Linked DNA regions of Homo sapiens: regions 1 and 2 are each linked to region 3. The links come from fine-mapping of genetic effects on gene expression. Tissue or cell type: adrenal gland. Region 3 holds a variant in brackets; each other region holds the start of a gene. All regions are shown on one strand. Distances are between the middles of the regions.

Region 1 (8,109 bases), 330 kb after region 3:
GGCCATACCTCTCAGGTGCTCCCAGTCCAGATGGACAGTAAATTACAATACAGTGTGACATTCTATAATAGAAGTTTGAAGAGTAAAAAGCAATACAGCAAAGGATTTGGGGAGTCAGGAAAGATTTATGAAGAAAGTGATACCAAAGAGGAGTATGGAAGAAGTTCATCAAACAACAGAGAAGTGAAAGATACATAAAATATGCACTACCACCTGCCCCCCACACACATACATGCAATAACATACACATGAATAAAAAGAATAGGACGGGCGTGGTGGCTCATGCCTGTAATCCCAGCACTTTGGGAGGGTGAGGCAGGCGGATCGTCTGAGGTCAGGAGTTTGAGACATGCCTGACCAACATGGTGAAACCCTGTCTCTACTGAAAATACAAAATTAGCTGGGTGCATGCCTGTAATCCCAGCTACTCAGGAGGCTGAGGCAGGAGAACCGCTTGAACCCGGGAGGCGGAGGTGGTAGCGAGCCAAGATCACGCCATTGCACTCCAGCCTCAGCGACGAGCAAAACTTCGTCTCAAAGAAAAAAAAAAAAGAATAAGGAAAAGAAAATGTGCAGGGTTAAGTGGCAAATAGTCCAAAATATCTAACTATATATCTAAGTGGACTTAGATCCTGAGTCTACGCATATACAAAACCCTGAAGTGCCCAGAAAAGGAAAAATTTCCCATTTTTTCCTAAATAATTCACTTTTTTGTATTTCCATATTATATGTCATAAGCTCTTGACAAAAAGCAAACATTGTAAACTGTTTTATTACTTTATAATGCAGCACACCCCCAAGGGATATACCAACAGATACCAACAGATTTGCATCTGTATTTCAGAGAACAAGCTCTCAGAAAACACAGTACAAATTCTATTTCCAGGACATTCCTAATAGTATAGACAAAGAAAATAAATGAACAAACCACATCAGCATGATTAGTCATAAGAGTTGAATTCTAAAATAGAAATCAAAGGATGTCAAACAGAAAAACCAAAGAAATAAAAACCTAACTTTCATTCCACTTCAAGGCAAACTTTCTACAATGACATCAACTTTAGCACAGCTCTTTTCAAAATATCTGATATAAGTCACAGTGAAATTCAATCCCTTTAAGTATCACAGGTAGAAACTGCTCTTAGTAAGGAAGAACAGTCACCTGTATCATCAAGCAGAATAAGTTCTACCATAGCACTAGATCTCTTGATTAACACTGTATGTAATTCCACTCAAACATTACAGTACACCTCATATTAACTCTGCCCCTAAACTGCCCTACCTGGTACCCTGGATATTCTGCCTCTTTGTGTTACAAAATCCACTACAGATCCAGGTAACAAATAACATCATAAATGTTTGGTGGTATATTTTCCTGAAATCTCAGGAAAATAACCTGTCCTCAAATGCCTATTCAAGCAAGCACATGGCATTGTTAGTTTGCCTTCAAATATGTGATCCCAACAGAATGAACTTTCTACAGTTACAAATTTTAACAACAAAAAAAAGCTATTATTTACCACTGCTTTTAAAGAGCAAGAAAATAAATTGTAAGCTAAGTTCTTTTCATTGGTCTATTAATGCTTACTCATTATTTCATATATACATGTGAAGCATACATTTTATTCATATTATCAGAAAATCTTATGAAGTAAGTCTGTCACTAGAAAAGATAAAACTATAACTTATACAGGTTGTAAAAAATTCTGTAATGGTCTTTCAAAATACAGGTACTTTTAACACCAGTATCTACTAAAGGAATACAAATGAGAACTGGGTTAGAATCACTTCTAATAAAATCTATTCATACACCTGAAAATTTTATTTACTTTTGAACAAATAATTTTCAGATTACAATAACTGTAAAGCATCTCTGAAAAATCAAAAAGTGCAACATCCAAAGTTATAAAGCAAAAACAAAGGTAATTAGTTCTTGTAGGGAGGTATATGGGAAGTTGTATCATTCTGAATTTTTTTGTTTTTGTTTTTTGCCCAGCATCAGAAGATAAGCCACAATCTGAGTTTTATCTTCAAGAGCAGGTACTTGGGGATATAAATCACTCATACACAAGCATTTTGCCCTCATTTTTCCACCATGTAAATTAAAGTATTATAGAAATTGAAAAATTGTATAGGCTGTATTTGTTGCTTGGTTAAACAGGCAATTCTCATTCCCTGAGATCAGATTAGGTTACAGATATCTCTACATTGTATACTTAGAAAAAGATTCCTGCCAACAAATGTTTACATTAACTTATTTGTATTGATAAAGCACTAATCAAGATGCAAAAAAAACTTCAGCAGTTTCTCACTTCCTCTCTAAAATACAAAGTATTCACAAAAATTATTACAATTCAAGCTCTCAGAAAATATGAGAGAAAAGTACCTTTTTTACAGTAAGGATCTTACAAAGTCAAGAAATAAGTGAGTAGAGTGGAACATGTTTTGTCTTTAAGTGTATTTTGTATTTTTTTCTTTAGATTTAACATTATAATAGAACTACAAACTAAACAAATTCAACATACAGAGCTTACTAATTATCTTGGTCCATTATAAAACATTTCAATGAACTGGGATGTGAATATAGACACTTAACCATTTCAGCCAACTATGATTCTTAACCCTTTCAATCTGCAATAGTTACCTTACAAAATTGTGAGATTTATTCATTGACGTTTGGAAAGAACTGTTGTCAATTATGCCAAGCATTCCCAAACTCAACATCAACCTTGCATGTAAATGGATACTTTAAAATTTCTATCTCATCCCTCACCCCATACTTTATTCTTTCCATTTATATTGCTTCAAAAGGGAAATCAACAGTCACACTTATGATTCCGAGCTCTAAAAATTCCTAATATTAAGCATGACACTAAATATGTTCAACTTTGAACCTTAAATTCAAGTTGGCCTCCCTCGTGAACTGATTTTAACTGAGTACTTTTTACCATTTCGCCAAGAACTAAGGGTTCAAAGCAGTGTACTTAATTATGAGGAATTGCCCAAACGATTTTAAAAGGAGTGGGATTCTCTGACCAAGACTTTTATGAAAATGAAACAAAATATGTTGCACTCAGTCTTCCGGATGTTGAAAAGTGAAGATGTCTCCAAGGATTCGAAGGAAGTTGATGTTTAGGTTCCCTCTGAGAGGGTGGTACCCTTAATGTAAGACTTTTGTGGTAGTAATACCGTACCTACAGGCCTGGAATAAATATAAGGTCTAAAACCTTGGAAATACTTTGTATAAAAGAAAACTCCAATTCTCTTTTGCTAAGGACCACAGTTACCAAGAGTTATCAGCTTTCACCCGGACAGACAACAGTGCTTCAATGAAGAACTACAAAGGCCTCTTTTAACCCTACTCTTTTCTTCTGTTAAACTTTTAAGCGAGACCTACGACAGCAAAAGGTGGAGAGGCCCCTGCGGAAGTAGAAACCCAGGACTTGCAACTTCACAGACAGAAGCGTCTGTGGTTCCTCCGCCGCCCCAGGATCATCCGGACTCAGTCTACGACACTACGGAAGCTTCACCTTCCTGGTGCGGTGGCAGAGGCGGCATCGCAGTTGCATTCCTTCTCCCTCCACCATGCACAGCCTTCGGTATCCCAGGGCCTGCAGGATCCTGACACCCGTTAGCCAGTCCAGTGTCTCCCATCTGACACTTGCAAACACACTAACAGAAATACACATAACTGGCAGATGATATACGTGTATTGAGAGAAGGTAAGAAGCCACAGACAGCACCAGCTGCCGGGAAGGCGGCAGAGCCGTCTAAAGCGGGCTCGAGCTCGTCGGCCACGGCCACGGCCGCTGCCGCCTTCTCTTCTCCCCCAGGAAGCAGCGCGGCGGCAGCGGCTCCTCCGCGCTGGCGGGAGCCTAGGGGAGTGGAGTCTGGGGAAGCCCCACCACTCGCGGATGGGACCGGGCCTAGGATCTGGAGCTGCTGCTGCTGCAGCGGCCCGAGTACAGCGACGCTTTACGTCCGGTCCACCACCACCCCCATACACACCCCCTCCCTCCCTCCACCGCCGCCACCCCCCTCCCCGCCCGCTCCGCTCTCCGTCTCTCGATTGGAGCCGAGACAAAAGCAACGGGAAGCGGTGGGCCGGGACGCTACCGGCGGACCCTGGGCGCGACCGGACCGGCCCCGGGGCATTCCCCCGCCTTGCGGGGGCCCCGAATCTGCCGCCCCCGCCGCGCGCCCCGCTGCCAGACTTCCGAAAATTTACCAAAAACTCACCGCATGAATTTTCTTGTCCCGCGGATCCAAGATGGCGACGTATCCACCGCGGAGGCTGCTGGGAGCAAGACCTTTACCCTCTGACCGCCGCCGTGACCCCCGTCGCTCCGGCTTCCCTCCAGGCGGCAGCGGAAGGTGGGAGCGACGACTGCAAAACGGCAGCGATGGGGTGGGTAGGCAGGCCGCTTTCAGCGCGCTTCTAACAAGGTGGAGAGAGGCGCTTCACTTCCCTACCGCCCTTACCGCCGCTCCGTCTTGTCTCCCACCGACTCACAGGGAGGCTTGCTGCTCCTCCGCGGCCGTTACAGAGAGCGGGGCTTCTGCGGCCGCTACCGTTTCCCTGGGGCTAGGTTGCTTCGCAGAAGGCTCTGGCCCTGAGTCCGAGGGGGACTGCGGGGTCCAGGGGCGATGAATGGTGAGGTGGCTTCAGTCCGCCCTCCCCGGGGACGCTGAGCGTGTTCGTGTTCGTGTTTGTGTTTGTGTTTGTGTTGGACACCCCCGCCCCCGCACGTCCGCCTCGTCACTCCTCCCCTCCTCACTCCCGCCACCTGGAGCGAATCTGATCGTGTCCCTGTTTCCTCCCTCAGCTCCCGCAACCTCCGGAGCTTGTGCGCGTACTTCAGGGACCGGCACCACGTCACCGTCACCTCCTGAGTAGTGAGTTCCCCTCTGATGAAACCACTGGTGTGTTTACTCACCATCCCCACCATTTTTTTTTCCCCAACCTGATGGAAGGAAGTACATAATGGAGAGCAAGTTTTTAAAGCACGGTCGTGTCGTGTGAACTTGCTCTAGCCAAATTAGGTTTATAGCACTTTTTTTGGCTCTCATTACCTCCAGTCCCCACATAAACAAGAGTGACCAGCTGGGTCATCCGCAAGACCGTTTGAAATTATTGTGGCTTGGGTGGAAACTTAAAGGAGTGAAGTATCTGCTTTCCAGAAAAATCGTTGTCATTCAAAGTGAAATTAAACTTGTTTTCTTTGCAATAATTCGCCTTTATTTCCTTGTATATCTGTAAACTCTTCACTTTTTTGTAATTACTAGACAATTCGGACTTAAAAAGAGCCTCAGCATGTGTATTTTGGAATTGTGTAGCTTCATAATGTGAAAATTATTCTTTTCTATTTGAGTAAAGTACAGTTAATTTGAAGTAAATAAAATTTCTATTTCCATTGGTTGTTTCTTTTAAAAAGTCACCTTTTACTTACAAAAGAATCACTGTAATCCAGTTTACATTTATCATTGAAGGTCAAAAGCAAGAAATAGGAAGAAACACAAGCATACTATAAAATAAAAGGTAACTGTCATGTTTTTGAAGGTAAGGTGTTTTGACATATCAGCAGACATTGTGTGAATTTATTTCAACTCCTAGTGGTACTGGTGTAGGTAGAAAATGTTTTGCTTGGTTATTCATTTCATCAAACACTCTACTTCACTGTTTTTTTTTCACTTCAGGAAAATTCGAGGAGGAACAACACATACTAGTGTCTTTCCTTTCTTTCTCCCCGTCTTCTGCAAATAGTCCCTTCCTCTTCCTGCTTTCTCCTCCTTCTCATGTTAACATCTTCAACCATAAGATGGTGTGTTAAAAGATTGAATATACCTCTATGGAATGACTTCCAGAGGGTGTAAGTCTGATATGAGAGTTTTATTACCTTGAGTATTTTACTGGAAGAGATAGAACAACAAACATTTTCATAATAAATGTGTGGGTTAGGAGTGTTAGGAGAAAATACACTGATACTATTACTTTCAATATTTGATACTACTTACTTTGACTCTCACTGAACACCTATTTGTTTAGGATGAATTCACTTTAAGCCGGGTTGAAGAACAAGCCTTTAATTGTCCTATTATTTGTGCCAAATCTATTATAAATTTGTTAAAAAATTTTTAATACCTACCTTAGAGGGTACTCTAGGTATTTAATGAGCTAGCATTTGTTAAAGGCTTGTATAGTAAGAATTCTTATAGTAAGAGTTCTTACCAATAGATGGTATATTTTTTAAATTGTCCTGTTGCATCAAAAAGTTCATCTTTATTGGTAATGTTGATTAAGTTTGCCCATTTGGTAGTTTGGTTTCTTTTAACTATCTTACTAGATTTTCTTACTTTTACCTGAAAAGTAGTCCTTACTAATAGGCACATGTTTTGTATATTTCCAAAATATGTATTATGTTAAATTCTCTGTACACTTTATTTAAAAATTACAGACGTTGAGGGAAAAAAAATACCCTATTAAGGGAAGAATGAGTTTGTGTATAACTTGTAGAAGAAGGAGGCCACCCATTTTTAGAAAAATATGGATGGTATTGAAAATTTTGCCATGGCAAGGGATAAAAAGGACAGGCTTCTCTAATGTGTCTGAAACAACATTTGAATCCCCTTTGTTCATTCCCTAAATCTGCTGCTCCTTTAGAATTCCTGATTTTCATAAATAGTACCACCATTCACTTATTTGCTCAGGCATAAAACTTGGAATTTTCTGATTCTTCACACTCATACAACTCATCAGACAGTACCATCAGTTCTTCCTGACAAATACATTCTGAATTTAGCTACTTATCACTTCCACTGGTACAACCCTTGGGAGCCACCATCATCTGTTGCTGGACCACAGCAATAACCACACTAGTTGCTATCACTTTCTATCTGTACCCTCATGAATATTTTCCCATTTAAACCATTCTCTATATACCAACCAAAGCAATCACTTAAAAAATGTTATTAGGTTATGTCACTCCCTTGTTTAAAACCCTCCAATAGCTTCCTTATGCACACAGAATGAAATCGGAATTCCTTACCATAGCCTTCAAGACTGCATAATCTGGCTCCTGCCCACTTCTCCATCTTCCCAGGAAGCAGCACAGGAAGTTGTTCTCACCCTTCTTACTGCCTCCTTTCTGTCGTGGGCTGTGCTTTTTCTAGTCTGTAGCAGAGTCTGTTAGTTGTCCCCAAAAATTCCTCCATTTTTTTCATAGTAATAGACATGGATACATGGCTACCCAGAACAAAGACTATATTTTGCAGCCTTCCTTGTAGCCATGTAATAGTGCTGGCTGATGGGATGTAAGCAGTATATCATGTGGCACACTTGTAAAACCATCCTTAAAAGATAGTTGGTGCACACCTTCAATGCGGCTTTTCCTTTATCCTGTACCGTGGAATATAGATGTGATGGCTTAGAACTGTAGCTGCCAATTTGTGCCTCATGCAAGTTCTCTCATTCTAGGGATGGCAAAACTAAACTGGTGGAAACCAGGGTCTGTGAGAACTTTATGGATCAGAGCACCATGCTAGCCCTGCAGTCGTAAATGTCTATATTATTAAAGCCACTATTTTGGAGTCTCTTGTTCTCAACTGAATTTAATCTTACCTGATACTCTGTCTCAGGGCCTTTGCACTTGCTTTTTATTTTTTATTTATTTATTTTTTTTCTGCCTGGGATGTGGTCTTCTGTCTTGGATATGGCTGACTCATTCTCTTCCTTCAGGTTAACCCAAATATCTCTGACAGGCCTTCCCTGGCCACCGTATCTAAAATAGCTCACGTTCCCATTTATTCTCTGTCAATCACGTGCCCCTCTATTTTCTTAATAGCATTTATAATTTATCATTATCTTGTTTATTCACTGTTTATTTTCTACCTCCCTTCACCCTACAAAAATATAAACTACACCTGTTTTTTTCCACTACTTTATCCTTCACACATGGTAGGCATTAGATAAATGCTGTTAAATTAGTGAGTGAATGAATCAACAAAATTCTTATCCAAGATTAGCTAGACTTTTTAAATAATAAATGAGTAAATGTCAACAGATATCCTTAACACAAAATTTGTAAAATCCAATCTAGGAAACAGGAAAAA
Region 2 (8,109 bases), 210 kb after region 3:
CTAGACATTCTACAAAGAAACAGAGGGGAAGCATAGGCCTTCAATAAAGAGGTAAAGTAAGGCAAAGAAAAGATCTAGGCAGCCAAGAGCCAACAGGAATGGACAATGGGTATTGCCTAATTGCAGGGACACTGTGGAAACACTCTGCTTATGTACATGACTCTGGCATAATATTTTTATTACATTGAATTTTTCCATCACACTGCCTATAAGAATTTCCAAATTGAGAATTTATTGGTCAAAAATAGAAAGGTGATGCTAAAGAACAAACTTACAGTCTATAAATGATACAACATAATTATAATCTGGATAAAGAGATATAAATTGGTTTGGCTGAGAAAACCTTGACTAAAATGAATAGGATGTTGTCCATGACTTCTGTAACATAAATATATTCTTCTCCAGTTCTGTCAGTTCCTGAATACTTTACTTTATAAAATGTATTTTGTTCAGGTACTTTTTCAAAACAACTGTTGCCAAGATCTGAACTGGCACTGGAAAAAAAATGATTATTTTCAGGGGAGAGAGAGATAAAGAAAAGAGAGAGGAGAAATTTTAGTATTACATAAAGCATTGGGATTGCTTCTAGGTAATTTAAAAATCAACGTCCCAATGATTTCAATTTACTTTTTCTGCCAGATACTTCAAACTGCCTGAAAATTGTGAAGCAGTCTTTTTGTAATAAATTATAATTTGTCCTTGTCTTGATTAGATATTAGCCATTTATTAATGTGTGTGTGCATATATATGTATATATAGATATGAAATTTATTAGTGCTTGAACCACTATCTTAAAATAATTAGCAACGTTTCACCAACTATAACAACTTCTAAATGATGAACTGCCATATAATTTCTAAATCATTACTACTGGTTGGCACTCATCTTTGACATTATTGATTTAATTCTAAAAAAAAAAATGTTTCTAAAACCCTGAGATTTCTTTTTAAATTCCTGAGCATTAAGAGGATCAAGTTACAACATTTGTCTTTGAGACGTTATCACCTCTTCAAGATCTTTAACATTATACTCCAAATTCTATATTCTTAGTCCTATATTTACTGCTTATGTATTATTGATATTTTTTAAGGTAAATCAATATTCATTTGTCGACAGGAGCATTTTTTTTTTGAGAGGAGTCATTCATATTTTTAAAAAGAAATATTTTCTAAATGTCTCAAATTCAAGAATTTACTGTTCAGGAGGTAAGACCACAAGTTTTATTGCAGAGTGACGGTAAGCTGTTTTAAATACTATTATAATATTAATGTAGAATTTTTTTCTTTTGGATTAATATAAATATATCTTGTTAGAGTTAACAGAAAGTTTTCCTGTGAACACAAGATGCATTCCCTTTTGGACTGTTTTTCTGCTTGATCCCTCAAAAAAAGGAAAAATGTCAGTAACTTTTAAAAAGATACATACCTTTGATAGTTAAGCAACAAGGAGAGCAGAAAAGATCAAGGGAAGTAGAAACGGAACCAGAACCAGGTGCACTACAAAGCTCAATTAGTTCACAGGCTAAGGACACTGCTTTTTATAAGTTATTTTTCTCCATTGGGAACAGTTTTCTGAGACTTCCTCTCTCTGCTCTCCATCCCGGGAGTCCTAACCAGGTTTTATCTTTTTTTTTTTTCTTTTTCTTTTTCTTCTTGCTTGCTTTCGAGACCAATAGAAGTTGTCAGAGAAGTCATATTAGGTACATTTCACTGAAGGTTTTCTATTTTCAGCAAGTTTTACTGTTCTCCAGACGACTCCTGACTGTCCCTAAACACAAAGGGTAACTAGGCTCCCTGTAGACTCTTTTGAGAATCTATTTCATGAAAACTAGGAGCCCTCTGTACTTCCCAAAATGGACCCGCAATATTCCACATTTGATTCCGGGTCGTTTGTCAAGCCACAAAAGCTTATCTTTGAACCCCAAGTTGAAAATGCCTATGTAGAGCGAAAAGGTGAGGAACTCTCTCACAACTTTCGAGAGTCCCCTCGACCTTTCAAGGAAGGTCATTCCATCTGAGTTCTAGATGAGACCAGCTGAAGCTCGGACCTTGACCGTGAGCTGGAGTAGGTGGATCCCCGCTAACCACTGGCTTTAAATGGAGGAAAAGTTAACTTTCTTGGCTCCTTGCACTTCTCCAAACCCAGTCCGGTAGGCGCAGGACCCGGACTGGGTCGAGGCCTCAAAATCTGAGACCAGGCAAGACAGGTTTTAAAGTAAGCCTCTGGGCACCACTGGTCGCCGCGCGTAAACCCACCTGAAAAGACCGGAGCCCTGGGGCTCCCTGATGTAGTCATTCCTGGTTTGAGCACAGCCTGCGCCACCTGGTCTCCTCCTAGCAATGCGAGCACACGCCGAACCCTCCCCGCGCGGAGTCTAACACCGACGCTGCCTCCAAACCTCCCTCGCGGGGAGCCCCTGGGTGCGCGGGGCGTTCTTACCTTGGGGTTGGTCAGGAGCTGGTGCTCGTCGCTGTGCAGCAGCGCCCTAGAGTTGGACTCAGAGTTGTTCACGTAGACCTGGACGCAGGGGTACTGCGAGGTGCCCCTGCAGTCGGCGCCACAGGTGAAGGTGCACTCGAACACCTCGCCGATCTGCTGCACCGACAGCACCGTGCAATTGGCCTCCGTGGCTTGCAGATCCTGCAGCGCGGGACTCAGCCAGCAGAAGCCGAAGATGAAGAGCGACACGACGCCGGAGATGATGAGAAACAAGCCGAGCCGGATGCTCTTGTCCTCGGCTTCCGTGTACTCGTAAGCCACCCGGAGCTTCGCCATCGCCCCCCACTCTCGGCGGCTGGCGTGCTCCCCCCGCCCCCTCCCGCCCCCGGCGCCGAGCCCGACTGCCTCGGGCGGGAGGAGCCGCCGCCGCCACCGCCGCCGCCGCGCGACAGCAGGGGAGTGGGCGGCGAGGGGGAGCGCGCGAGAACAAAGGGGCCGAGGCCAGCGACGCCCCCGGCGGCGGCGGCGGCAGCGCCCCCCAGCCCCCCAGCCGCCGCCTGGGCCCCGCGGTGCAGCAGCCGCTTCAGAGCCTCCTGCACCCTCGGGCGCGGGGAGCGCACGGACCGCTCCAGCTTCCAGCGCCCCCTGCCAGCCTCCGCCCCCGCACTCTCCCCGCCTCCCCCACCCCGCCTCCTCTCGTCGGGTGTCTCTCTGTCTCCATCGCCCGCTGGCCGCTACTCCGCTGACTCGCCCGGCAGCTGCCCCAAGGCTAGGAGTGTCTGAGCTGGGGCGAGCCCGGGGGCTCCCCCGTGCAGGAGGAGGCTCCGCCCCGCCCCGTCCGCAGCAGACCCGGGCCCTTCCGCCCCGCCCCGCTCCGCCCCGCCCCGCCCGGGGGCGTCTCCTTTGGGCGAGGGGCTGACGGGCACAAGCGACAGCGGCGACTTGCAATCGGAATCTTCGCTCACTCCCCTTAGAGGGACGTCCGAGATGAAAGATTAAGATCAATTTAGCTTAACCGGAGGGAAGTTAAAATAATAATAATAATAAGAGGGGAGGGTGGAGTTCAAGTGGAGCGGCGGGAATCTTGAACTCCAAACGAGTACTGGTCACCTGCAGGGAGAGCGGCCAGGCTCCGGGCGCACCCCGGGAAGCGGGCACGGGTGGCGGTGTGGGAGGACACGAGCCGCCCAGGCCGGGCGGATCGAGGTGAAAGCCCCAGGCTAGCGGTGTGCGCTGGGAGGTCCCCGGGGACGACTGAATCGCAGGTTCCCATGCCACGGGCGGGCTGGCGCGCGGTGGTGCCGGAGGCGTGACCCAGCCGCGCCCACGCCGCCAGCGGCTGCGCCCAAGGGAGCGCAGTAACCGTCCAGTCCCAGGACTTGGGCCTCCTAACCGTCTTGGCGCAGACCCGCGCCCCCTGACCCTGCTGAGGCCGGGAGGGCTGCAGGATTGGAGTTAAACAAGCTGAGTCAGGTGGAGTTTGCTGTGGAGGCAATGTGCGTGGGGGCAGGAGGCTGGACGAAGGAAACTTGCTGCTTAGGTCGTCGGTGACCCTTGTGGCAACTTAGGTCTCTGGCAGCCGAGTTGACCCCAACTTGATTTGCCCCCATGGCTGGGGCTGACTGAGACCAAAGGAAAAAGGTGGAGAGCTTTGCAGCCTGGAAAGAAATACCACTTTACCCATCAGAAAAGTACTCTTGCTTTGGGGCTCGCAAGAACAGAATCATTTCTGTCGTTTCCCTCCTTAGGAGTCTTGCCACCCCTGACCCGCCCCAGGATTTGTAGATGAGGTTTCCAGGAGCGCTGCTTAAAGCGACAGCGCCGGGCAGACCCACTTTGGGACAGGTACTGTTTCTAGACCTGTGTTCTGCTCTTAATTCTTGCCGTTGCTCCCTCCTCCCCCAATTACGCTAACAATGCTTCAGCCTCTATTGTTTTCGCGACCTTTTTAAAGTTAGAATGACCTTTTCCCAAACTACACTTTTATCATAAAATCAAACTTGAGAACTATTTATATGTACATTTCGAAGAATAAAATCAGAATATTAACTTCCTTGCAAACTACATAAACTTTTTTTGTTTGCTTGTAAGTCTCAAATGAATAAACTCTTAATTATGTTCCTGATGAATACGGAAACATGGAATCATGGAATTCTTGACTTCTCTTTCCTGGACTTCAAATGTTACTTAACTGGTATTGAGTACCTTTCGACTGCAGTTCTGATAACGTTATTTTGAAGCACTACATTATGACAGGTAACAAGTATTTCCCAGCAATGGGCAAATTAATTACAGGAAGATCCTAAGTGTCTTTTTCTCAATAAATTAAGAAGATGTAGAGTTTGAAAAACGTCCAAATTAGGAAGATGCTTTGTTCTCTAATACCTTTCAGGTTTTGAGATTTTCTTTTTTTAATTTAAATGTAAGAATTGTATTCTTTTCCTGTTAGCATAAAGACAATTGTGATTACATTGCTTAAAAGTGAGTTTAATAATTGAAATAGCATAACCGAAAATCACAAATCTTCAATCTGAATCTTTTTCCTATTGCAGGAAAAATAAAAAACATAGGAAATAATCTTTTTTTTCTATTGTTATAATCTTCTTTTCCAAGAAAGGAAAAGCTATGTCTAAGATCTGAAGCAATGATGAACAAATAACAAGATACAATTATTCTAGCTCAGTATGTTGAGGAACTGAAATGAGGCAGAATTAATTCCTATTAATGCACAGCAGTTGGGGGACTACCAATAATTTAATGAATATGGTTCGTTTTTCAATGATTCCAGAGCTCAAAGTCTTCTGTGAATGAAACCTCTGCCTCAAAACTGAAGTACGGTGGTCTAAGTCTAGGGAACAAAATCAGAAAATTCTATCTTATTTTAACTGAAATTCTTGAAGTTTTAAAATTCATTTTCTTTCAGTTCTGCATTTAGTCAATTTCTTTCTTGGCAATTATTCTTAAAGTATTTAAAGAAACTTGTGTCTTCTGTTCTCTAGACATTTTTTTCTCCTGTTTCCTGTTTTTAATTTAGCTTTTCTCTGAACACTTTTATCTTCACATCTTTATTGAAAGTCAAACGTATTAAGACTTCACAAATTAAATCAATTTCTATTTTATTCTTAATGAAACACTGGAAGTGTTTATTAGTTTTACTTACTTGAAGCGGAGCTGCTTTATCACATTCCCAAGGAAGATTGGATATGTCAGCCCCTCAGTTTCAGAATACAGGTCACCACTTACTAAGTCAGAATGGTAGTAAGAACTCCAGGAAAGCTCAGAAATGCTAAGATCTGAGGTCACTTAAAATCTCTGTTCCCTGTGAAAGGTGGAAGTAGCACAGAAAAAGCAGCTAGTCCTTTCTTTGAATAGTGTTCCACCAATTAAGATTAAAAATGTAATATTAAGAACCAGACTGACTTATTTGATGTACATCGTCTGCAGTAGTTTTTCCAGTAGGATCATGGCCAGGTCTTGATAAAGTTCAATTTAAAAGAAAAATAAAGCCTGTCTAAACAAGGGCATCAAAGCCATGTTACTTATAATTTGTTCTCATGATCAATATTCAAAAAGTCCTGTGGCTGATGCTAAAGTTGCAGTATACAATATCATATGTATATATACTTTTTAATAAAAGATTCTAAAAATAATTTTAAGGCAGGCTTTTGTATCCTAGGAATAGAAGGGAATTTACAGCAGGTGGGAAAATTTTTTCAAAAATTGGCACATTATGAAGTTTTTTGATAACTGCCACTAAACACTTGAAAAGCGAAAATACATAGGAAAATAATGTATAATCACTTTTTCTATTAAAATTTACGTTCTAGAGTTTAGACCTTTTTTACTAGATATTACACATGATGAAAGTATGAGTGATCCAACAAAGAAAACCATATAAAACCATTTTATATTTTCTTCTTGATTCAGCAGCTATAATTATAGATTTTGTTAATGTCATAGGAAATTGAGTTCCAGCTTGCTGATACCAAATTAATTTCCTTGCCATGCTCCATTATGAGTGTTAAATATTTGTTATTAGCCTCAGAATTTTAAATTCAAAATACATTTCCTATGTGGTCACTATTTTTTCTGATTGTTTTTTCCTGGCCATAAACTTCACCTATTAAAATGAGCATATAATTATTACTAAGAACACTACTTACTATCTCTAATTACAGTAAATTAGAACAGGAAGGGATTTTAACCATTGCCTAGTTCAACATTAACCAAGAAGCTCCCAGACTTTGCATTTTGCTTGTAATTGTAGTTATTTAAAATATTTTTTAAAAGCTCAAATTTATGTTTGTGTATAGCCTTTATGTTTGCAACTGAGGAAAGCAAAACACAGACAATCAATTCACATTTTTTCCATTAAAATTTACATTCTGGATAGATTAGCAAATTTTTAATACCATACTGGTAGTGCTCTAGAGTTCCTAAAATCTCACCAACTGTTGAGTCTTTCATGTTAACTGCAGTGAATCTGTATGGGAGAGATATACACAGGTATGTAGTAAAAGGGAAATCAGCTTTGGAACTTGAAACATAGAGGCCAAGAGGTTTTGGTCCCAGCTTTAGTAGTAAATAATTTGACACAAGGTAAATAATCCTCTTAGTCTATTTTCTGTTGCTATAACTGAATACCTGAGACTGGGTAATTTATAAAGAAACTTATTTCTTACAATTCTAGATGCTGGGAAGTCCAAGAGCATGACAGTAGTATCTGGTCAGGTCCTTGTGTACCCTAACATGGCAGAAGGCAGTTCCATAGCAAGAAAGCAAGAATGCCTATTAACTCAGGCCACTGTACATATAAAGCCACCAGTCCCATCAGGCCCCACACCCTGATGACCTTATTTAATCCTAATTATCTCCCAAAGGCCCCATCTCGAAATGCCATCAAAAATATGAATTTGGGGAATATGTTCTAACACATTAAATTTGGGGGACACTTTTAAACCATAGCAATATTAGTTTCCTCCTTGTCGTACAAAAGGGTTGGTCTAGAAGAGTTTTAGTATTCTAGTATCTAATTCCCATTTTTGTTTTGCCATGCACTTTAGAAAATTGGGTATTGCTATATAACAGTATCTAGTGAAGTTAAAAGGTCTTGAACAGAATCCAAAAACATGGAGAGCCTGTCCTAGCATGATGGCTAACAGGAAGAGTGTTTGTCTTTAGAGAAATGGACCTACGTCGATGCAACACCTAATATAAGCTAGGTTATTTACAAATGCCTTAATTTAACCTTCCCATGAGAAGAAGAGGGAAAAACATTCAGAGATTAGGTAATTTTTGCAAGACTGCACACATATTGTGACAGGGCCAGGGGATTTTATATTTGCATTTTACATAGTATCTTATATTTAAGAAATACTAACTACTCGAAGATAATAAATTACCTAAAACAATTTTTCTACTATACTATGCCACTTCTAAGAAATTTGTTAACAAAAATGAAGTGTAGATAATACAAAAAGCATTTATGAATGGATTTAAAATGTGTTTCTATACTTATATTTAAGTACAGTTAGGCTTAATCAAAATCTCTACTGTGAAACGATTATGAAGGGGACGGTGAGTAGAGGCTGAAGGAACTAATAATTTAATCTGGTCCCCCTGCTTAATTTTACTCTGAATCACATTTGTGTTGAAAATAGCCTCTTCAGA
Region 3 (8,109 bases):
CCAGTGTGTTTCAGATCCTGGTTTTAAACCCAGTTCTGAATGACTCCAGTGCCTACAAAGCTCTCCATCCTAAAATCCATCCTGAAATGTCTGTTGGTCAAAACCACTATTCATCCTTTTTCACACAAGGTGAAAATGTGAACCTTTATGGTTCTGGGACTAGGGAGCAAAAATCTTAGCAAAGGAAATGAATGTTCAGTCCAATGTGCTGGAAAGAATTAAATTTAAATAGCTACCATTTTCCCAATATATTTATGCTTTCTGGGGTTTATACCTGAGATTTCTGCTTAAGGTTGGCATCAATACATTGTCAAATGTTTCCTACTAAGCTATGGGTTGATTTCTGTATTTTAAAATGTCAGTTTTTCCATGAGGTTCTGAGACAATTGTCCTTATCCTGTTACCTAGCGCAGGACCTGGGGCTTAGTAGGCACTCAGTAAATACTTGGCAAAGGAATAATCAGAAATCACTTAGATCAGGGGTCCCACCTGGGAGTCCATGGTTCATGGGAGACTTTAGGAATGTAGTAACCCCTGAAATTGTTTATGAGGTTGCTGGGGATAGGAAAGGTATATGCATTTCTTTGAGAAGAAACAGTCCATGGCTTTTATCAGATTCTTATGGTTTCTGTGACCTCCAAAAAGCTAAGAACCTCTGATTTATATTGTTACAGGATGCTGACATTGAAGGGGTCCTTAGAATGATCTAATCCTGTTTCCTCATTTGGATATAAAGGAAGTCCCAGAGAAGGAGTGTGGCTTCTCCAGGGTTGCAGGGCTGACTGGTAGTGGAGTTCAGTCTAGCTCCAGTGCTGTCCATTCCATCATGCTGTATCCGAGAGCACTAGTCAGGGATATAAAGAGATTATCCCTACCCTTGAATAATTTGAAGCCCAATTACACTGACAATCACAATAATGACTTAGATCTGAAAAGCAGATTTCTATTTACAAAGCAGTCTTATGTCAGGGTCTCATATTGATCAACTTGGAGCCTAAAAATCACCAGAAATTAAAGGATGTGTTACCTAACTACCAACCCCTTGCTTCCTACCAATGTCAATTCATGATGATTTCCTATCCGTATGACTTTAATATTGCCAAGTCTTTTGCTGAGATTGTTTTAAAATGCAAGAAAGTGATTCTTTATTCAGTGCATCCTCTTGACTCCTTGACCGGCATGAACTTGGACTTGGTACACGACTAATGGAGGCAAATCATTGCCCCTGACAAATCAGTTTAACTGGAGGGTCATGTCTGAGTTGTTCTCTTGATGATTTTGGCTGATTATCTTAATGCCCTTTTCCATTTCTGATGCTCTTGTTCTACATTTTGGGTGAAAATACCAATATTTCTAATTCTGTATCACATCATCTCACTGTGTAGCAAGGCAGGTCTCCACAAATTACCCCGTTCCACCTGGAGAGCTCCTTATTGACTTAACGTGATATTCAGCCAGGTTTTTCTTCCTGTAATAGTTGCTTTGCCTTTAGCAAATTGCCTGGATCATTGACCTTTCTTAGCCCATGCATAAAATGCCACTTCATAATTTCCTCTCCTTAACTCTGTGATGACTGTATTCTAACAACACTGTAATTGGTTTTAGGTAAATATCTTGGAGAAAGCATATCTGTCCTTGCTCCATATCTGTGGTGAGCTATATTCCAAACACTAATCAGTAAACACAAGGCAACAAAGGATGCTAATGCAACTTGCAGGTGTGAGAAAATGGAGCTTCCATGCCAAAATACTGAAATTTCTGGATCATTTCATGATTTGAGAAAAAGTAGAGGTGAAAAATTGGACACAGCCTTGGCATGTGGTCAGATCAGAAACCCCTAATATATACCAAATACAGAGGACATGCTAGTATTAGGACAAGAGTTTAGTACCCTGGATCCGAGTTCATGCCTCTTTTCAATGCTCCTCCTCATTAATATGTATAATGTCCAGTTACCGTGAAATAGTAATGAATCTGTGGCCTACTGTTGAATTAAAATTCAGCCCCAAATGGAAAAATGAAATCTCCTTAATATCATGCTCTAAATACAGAATTGCCTTATTCCACAGTGTTCCTAAGTAACATGCATATATTTATTTACTGGTTGGGGAGGGGACCACAGATATACAGAATGGTTTCGTTCATATATTAGAAAGAACCTCACATGCACAAAATTGTATTAATCATAATTCTTGGTTCAAGAAACCATGCATCCCCAGCACTTTGGGAGGCCGAGGCGGGAGAATCATGAGGTCAGGAGTTTGAGACCAGCCTGGCCAACATGGTGAAATCCCATCTCTACTAAAAATACAAAAAATTAGCTAGGTGTAGTGGCAGGCACCTGTAATCCCAGCTACTTGGGAGGCTGAGGCAGGAGAATCGCTTGAACCAGAAGGCAGAGGTTCCAGTGAGCCAAGATCGCACCACTGCACTCCAGCCCGGGCAAGAGAGTGAGATTCTGTCTCAAAAAAAAAAAAAAAAAAAGAAAAGAAAAGAAAAAAGAAACCATGCATCAACTGCCACCTTTACTTTTTAGGCATCTAGTTAGTAATTTTTGATAATTTAACATGTACACAAGAAACCAACCAGTACCTAAAATAAAAGCTAGGACCTTGACAATAACCTACATCAAAGTATGTGGTCCCCACCTCGTGAATTCACTCAAAGGTAGCCAACATCTTGACTCCTATGTTCACCTCTCCCTTGCTTTCCATCTTGCATAGTTTTATTGCATTTATATACAGGCCTAAAATTATGGGTTTCAAAATTTTTTGTTGTTTTTAACATTATTTAAAAAGGTATTTTTAATGTAGTATTTAATATCTTAGGGACTTAGATGTTTTACTTATTATACAGGTAAGATTCATCCATATTTTGTATTTTGATGTTAAGGACAAGAAATCCATATTTTTGTGTTTTGAGTTAAGGAATTAATTATAACTATTATATAATATTTCACTGTGTGTGTGTATGTGTGTATATGTATGTATTCATTATCCAGTCTCCTGTATATATTCTTCTACACGTGGTTTTTATATAGTTTTTTAATTTTGCCAGTCAAATGGATGTAAAACAGTATTTCACTGTGGTTTTGACTTGCATTTCCTTGATCACCAGTGATGTGGAAAATCTCTTCATTTATTATGCAAATAACCATATGTGTTTCTTCTTCCATTTTTCTTTTTCCTTTTCTTTTCTTTTTTTTTTTTTTTTTATGAGATGGAGTCTTGCTCCATCACCCAGGCTGGAGTGCAGGGGCATGATGTGATCTTGGTTCACTGCAACCTGTGCCTCCTGGGTTCAAGTGATTCTTCCATCTCAGCCTCCCGAGTAGCTGGAACTACAGGTGTGCACCACCATGCCCAGCTAATTTTTGTATTTTTTAGTAGAGACGGGGTTTCACCATGTTGGCCAGGCTGTTCTCAAACTTCTGACCTCAAGTGATCTGCCCTCCTCAGCCTCCCAAAGTGTTAGGATTACAGGTGTGAGCCACCATGCATAGCCTCATTTTTTTGAGGGGGGCGGGTTGGGGGATTGCTTATATTCTTCTTAGTAACTTTTGAGTCAGCAAGGTATGTTGGAATTATCTATATCGTTTACCATCACTCATATTAATCATCAGCCATCATGTTTAATGTTCCATCTTATACATGACACTTTGTGCAGGCAAACAGCAGGCTTAGAATGAGTTCATCAGCTTCTGTTAAAAGATCCGTTTAATCACTCCACATAGTGTAACAATCTTTCCCCTCCAGAAATTTGTAACCTAAGGTCTAAGATTTTTCTTTTAAATGCACACAATAATAATCTACTCTCTCTTTTTATTGTCCCAGCTTGTCATCTGTGATCAATTACTCACTCAGAATTCATAAATATTTAGTTACTCTCTGTTTCCTTTTCAGTGCCTGACAAAGTCCAGGGAGTCAGTGTTAGCAACTCAGCCAGGAGTGACTATTTAAGGGTATCCTGGGTGCATGCCACTGGAGACTTTGATCACTATGAAGTCACCATTAAAAACAAAAACAACTTCATTCAAACTAAAAGCATTCCCAAGTCAGAAAACGAATGTGTATTTGTTCAGCTAGTCCCTGGACGGTTGTACAGTGTCACTGTTACTACAAAAAGTGGACAATATGAAGCCAATGAACAAGGGAATGGGAGAACAAGTAAGTGGAACGATTGCAAAATCTGACAGTTGGTTGGACTTGAAAGTCTCTAGTAATTTATCTGAACCTTGAATTTTTTCTGCTTATTCATTAGTACATTACATTCCCAGTAAGTCTCACTTGG[T/C]GCTAACATCATTCAGCCAAGCCATGGCCTATAATTACAGAATATTTATTGGTAGATAAAAGCAAACATAGTGAGGGAGCAAGAAGGCTAAATGTCCCATTTTTCTTCCCTATCTTCCTGCATCATGGCATTTAGATTCTAGACTTCTTGTTTTATCTTATGATTGAGATCATAACTCATTTTATAATTATGTTCTACCAATGCTGATCATGTAACATTTATGTCAGGAAAAAACCACAATGTTAATAGTTGCTTCCAATTTTTCTTGTTTAATTATGCATGAAGTAGTGCTAGTGGTTTATTTGGGGAAGGGAGATGTTGCCAGTTCCTTGAATGTGATTCATAAATTATTATGTAGGTAAACTCTGATCAGTTCCTTTCCTGAAATGTCTTCTCATTTTTCTCCCTAGTTCCAGAGCCTGTTAAGGATCTAACATTGCGCAACAGGAGCACTGAGGACTTGCATGTGACTTGGTCAGGAGCTAATGGGGATGTCGACCAATATGAGATCCAGCTGCTCTTCAATGACATGAAAGTATTTCCTCCTTTTCACCTTGTAAATACCGCAACCGAGTATCGATTTACTTCCCTAACACCAGGCCGCCAATACAAAATTCTTGTCTTGACGATTAGCGGGGATGTACAGCAGTCAGCCTTCATTGAGGGCTTCACAGGTAATGTGAAATACTGTTCTTGAACCTGAATAGATGCAGTGGTGCATTTAACTTTCGGGTAGTTCAGGTATTTCGATTGAGCATTTGGAGGGATAAAAGGGAGACAGCAAGAAGGGACAAAGTCATGTTGATAGTGACAATGATGTTGTCCAACCTGGATGAATGAAAATAAAGTATGATGTCAGCAGAGAGTGGCGGGGTTGGAGGGTGCTTTCAGAGAAATAGCAATGAACTGATGTGATCAGCTGGTGCTTCTGAGGCACACAGATTAAGAATTAAGTGTTACTTGGGTATCACTTCTTTAGAACTCTTTTAGGAGTGTTGCCATAGTAGTTAACATGTACTGACAGTTCACCATGAACCAGACCCACAGCAAAGCATTTTATGTCTACATCTTGTTCAGTCTTCACAATGCTTTGGAAGCCAAGGCAGGAGGATAGCTTGAGCCCAGGAGTTCAAGCACAGCCTGGGCAACATGACAAAACCCTGTCTCTACAAAAAATACAAAAAAATTAGCCGGGCACGGTGTTACGTGCCTGTAGTCCCAGCTACTGGGGAGGCTGAGGTGGGAGAATCACTTGAGCCCAGGAGGTATAGGATGCAGTGAGCCATAATCATGCCATTGCACTCCAGCCTGGACAACAGACAGAGACCCTACCTCAAAAATAAAATAAAATTAAATTAAAAAAGAATCAATCTTCACAACTCTATGGGCTGGTTAGTATTATCATCACTGCCATTTTTCCTAATGAAGAAACTAAAACTTACAGAGGTCAAGTAATTTGCCTGTAGTCCCACAGCTAGTGAGTGAGAAAACCAAAACTTGGACCAAGACACCCTAACTAGCCCCTCGCTATATAATTAGCATTCCTCATTTCCACTCACCGGCTTTGACTTCCCCCTAAGCTTTCCCCCATCAACTTTAGTTCACACAGAAAAATCAGAGAAAAGTGGCAAATTGTTACTTTCTTTTTCATGTGAGTTCTCTCAGTGGGTGCCAAAACATCAGAAGCATTCAAAACTTTGTTTGAAAATTTCAACAGTTCATTCTCTAAGTGATGACTTTTAAATTTATTTTCTGTTTTAGTTCCTAGTGCTGTCAAAAATATTCACATTTCTCCCAATGGAGCAACAGATAGCCTGACGGTGAACTGGACTCCTGGTGGGGGAGACGTTGATTCCTACACGGTGTCGGCATTCAGGCACAGTCAAAAGGTTGACTCTCAGACTATTCCCAAGCACGTCTTTGAGCACACGTTCCACAGACTGGAGGCCGGGGAGCAGTACCAGATCATGATTGCCTCAGTCAGCGGGTCCCTGAAGAATCAGATAAATGTGGTTGGGCGGACAGGTAAGCATCCACCTGGAGAAGGGCTAGATTGTAGAATGCCTCATGGTTCTCCAAAATGGGACAGTGAACGGGCTCAGCTATTCACAAATCCAGATTTAAAACCACCAAAGTTTGTACAATTCAATGGTTTCAAGAGCCTTACTCATTTATTCTTTGTATTTTTCTCTTAATAGAGATCTGCAAAACAAATGAAAGGGAATCAGAAACCAAATCATTTGAACACATTTTTATACTTGCTAAAGGATAATAAAATTTTAAATTTTAACAAGCAGGCTGGGCACAGTAGCTCACGCCTGTAATCCCAGCACCCTGGAAGGCCAAGGCAGGTAGATTGCTTGAGTTCAGGAGTTCGAGACTAGCCTGGGCAACATAGCTAAACCCCATTTCTACTAAAAATACAAAAAATTAGCCAGGCGTGGTGGTGCACACCTGTAGTCCCAGCTGCTTGGAAGGCTGAGGTGGAAGAATCACCTGAGCCCGGGAGGTCAAGGCTGCAGTGAGTCGTGATCGTGCCACTGCACTCCAGCCTGGGCAACCGGAGTGAGACCCTGTCCCAATAAATAAGTAAATAAATAAATAAATAAATTTTAATAAGGAGACTTCCATAATTATGCATTTTTCAAAAGTTCTACCTTTTAAGAAAGAGTACACATCTGTGCCATCTACTTTACCTGGTAGAGCTAAAAAAACAAGTATCAAATGTATGAATAATATATCTGTTTATATCAATATCACTATTCATGTATTATTTTTGAAAGATCTCTAGCCATACTATAGTTCTCTTACAGATGAGGAAAGAACAGTTCAGAAAGCTTGTAAAACAGTATCAAGGATACGTATATAACAAGACCTAAAGCTATAATTCAAGTCTAGGTCTGTCTGGCCCCAAACCTCGTGCCCTCTCCACTGTGACACAATACTTCTTAGATGTCTCCCATTCTCATGACCACTTATTTAGTTGTGGGGTCTGGGGCTTCTATACCATGCCCTACTATGCCTCTATTTCATATCTATATTTATATCTATATCTGCATATCTTTAACCCTATGACAAATCCTGTGTTAGAAGTGGGCATTCGGGCCAGGCGCGGTAGCTCACGCCTGTAATCCCAGCACTTTGGGAGGCCAAGGTGGGTGGATCACAAGGTCAGGAGATTGAGACCATCCTGGCTAACATGGTGAAACCCCGTCTCTACTAAAAATACAAAAAATTAGCTGGGTGTGATGGCAGACGCCTGTAGTCCCAGCTACTCGGGAGGCTGAGGCAGGAGAATGGCATGAACCCAGGAGGCGGAGCTTGCAGTGAGCTGAGATCATGCCACTGCACTCCAGCTTGGTGACAGAGTGAGACTCTGTCTCCAAAAAAAGAAAGTGGGCATTCAGTAGCAAGGCAAAGCCCCTGACCTCAAGAACCTTATAATCTAGTGAAGGAGATAGAAAAGTAAAAAGGCAATTACAGTAAAACATGGTACGTGCTAAGAAAAAAGTGGTTATGAGATGTTAGAGGAGCAAACAAGAAGAGTCAGGGAAGGCTTTCAGGAGGAAGTAATATTTAAAGAAAGACTAAGAAGTCATCCAGGTGAAGTGTAAGTTGTCTTCGTTCCAACAGAGAAAACAAAGCCCTGGAGGTGAGAGAAAGGATGGCACATTTGGGAACCTACACCTTTTTTAGTATACTAGAATAAAGGCCGGGCACGGTGGCTCATGCCTGTAATCCCACATTTTGGGAAGCTGAGGTGAGTGGATAGCCTAAGTCCAGGAGTTCGAGACCAGCCTGGGCAACGTGGCAAAACCC

What was found. PIP is the estimated chance that this variant, and not a neighbour inherited with it, causes the effect.
Region 1: CNOT2 starts here. The variant in region 3 is fine-mapped to the expression of CNOT2 in adrenal gland (GTEx, PIP above 0.99).
Region 2: KCNMB4 starts here. The variant in region 3 is fine-mapped to the expression of KCNMB4 in adrenal gland (GTEx, PIP above 0.99).

Annotation. Positions count from the first base shown.
Region 1 is chr12:70,239,611-70,247,719 of GRCh38, reverse strand. It overlaps CNOT2 (CCR4-NOT transcription complex subunit 2), which reads right to left and starts at 4,287. Exons shown (of 16, transcript NM_014515.7): 1 at 4,240-4,287. PRANCR (progenitor renewal associated non-coding RNA) reads left to right here and starts at 4,360. Exons shown (of 5, transcript NR_120460.1): 1 at 4,360-4,408; 2 at 4,827-4,896; 3 at 5,491-5,539. RefSeq lists enhancers at 3,558-3,697, 4,428-4,627, 3,802-5,001 and silencers at 3,998-4,257, 4,329-4,868.
Region 2 is chr12:70,361,401-70,369,509 of GRCh38, reverse strand. KCNMB4 (potassium calcium-activated channel subfamily M regulatory beta subunit 4) reads right to left here and starts at 3,220. Exons shown (of 3, transcript NM_014505.6): 1 at 2,440-3,220. The coding sequence starts at 2,775. RefSeq lists a silencer at 3,165-3,404.
Region 3 is chr12:70,567,881-70,575,989 of GRCh38, reverse strand. PTPRB (protein tyrosine phosphatase receptor type B) reads left to right here. Exons shown (of 34, transcript NM_001109754.4): 12 at 3,903-4,166; 13 at 4,701-4,964; 14 at 6,052-6,315. It overlaps PTPRB-AS1 (PTPRB antisense RNA 1), which reads right to left. Exons shown (of 9, transcript XR_001749196.2): 9 at 4,540-6,492. Among named protein-coding and RNA genes, the nearest start is that of PTPRB, 65 kb to the left of the region's middle. The variant T/C (reference allele first, on the strand shown) is at 4,291.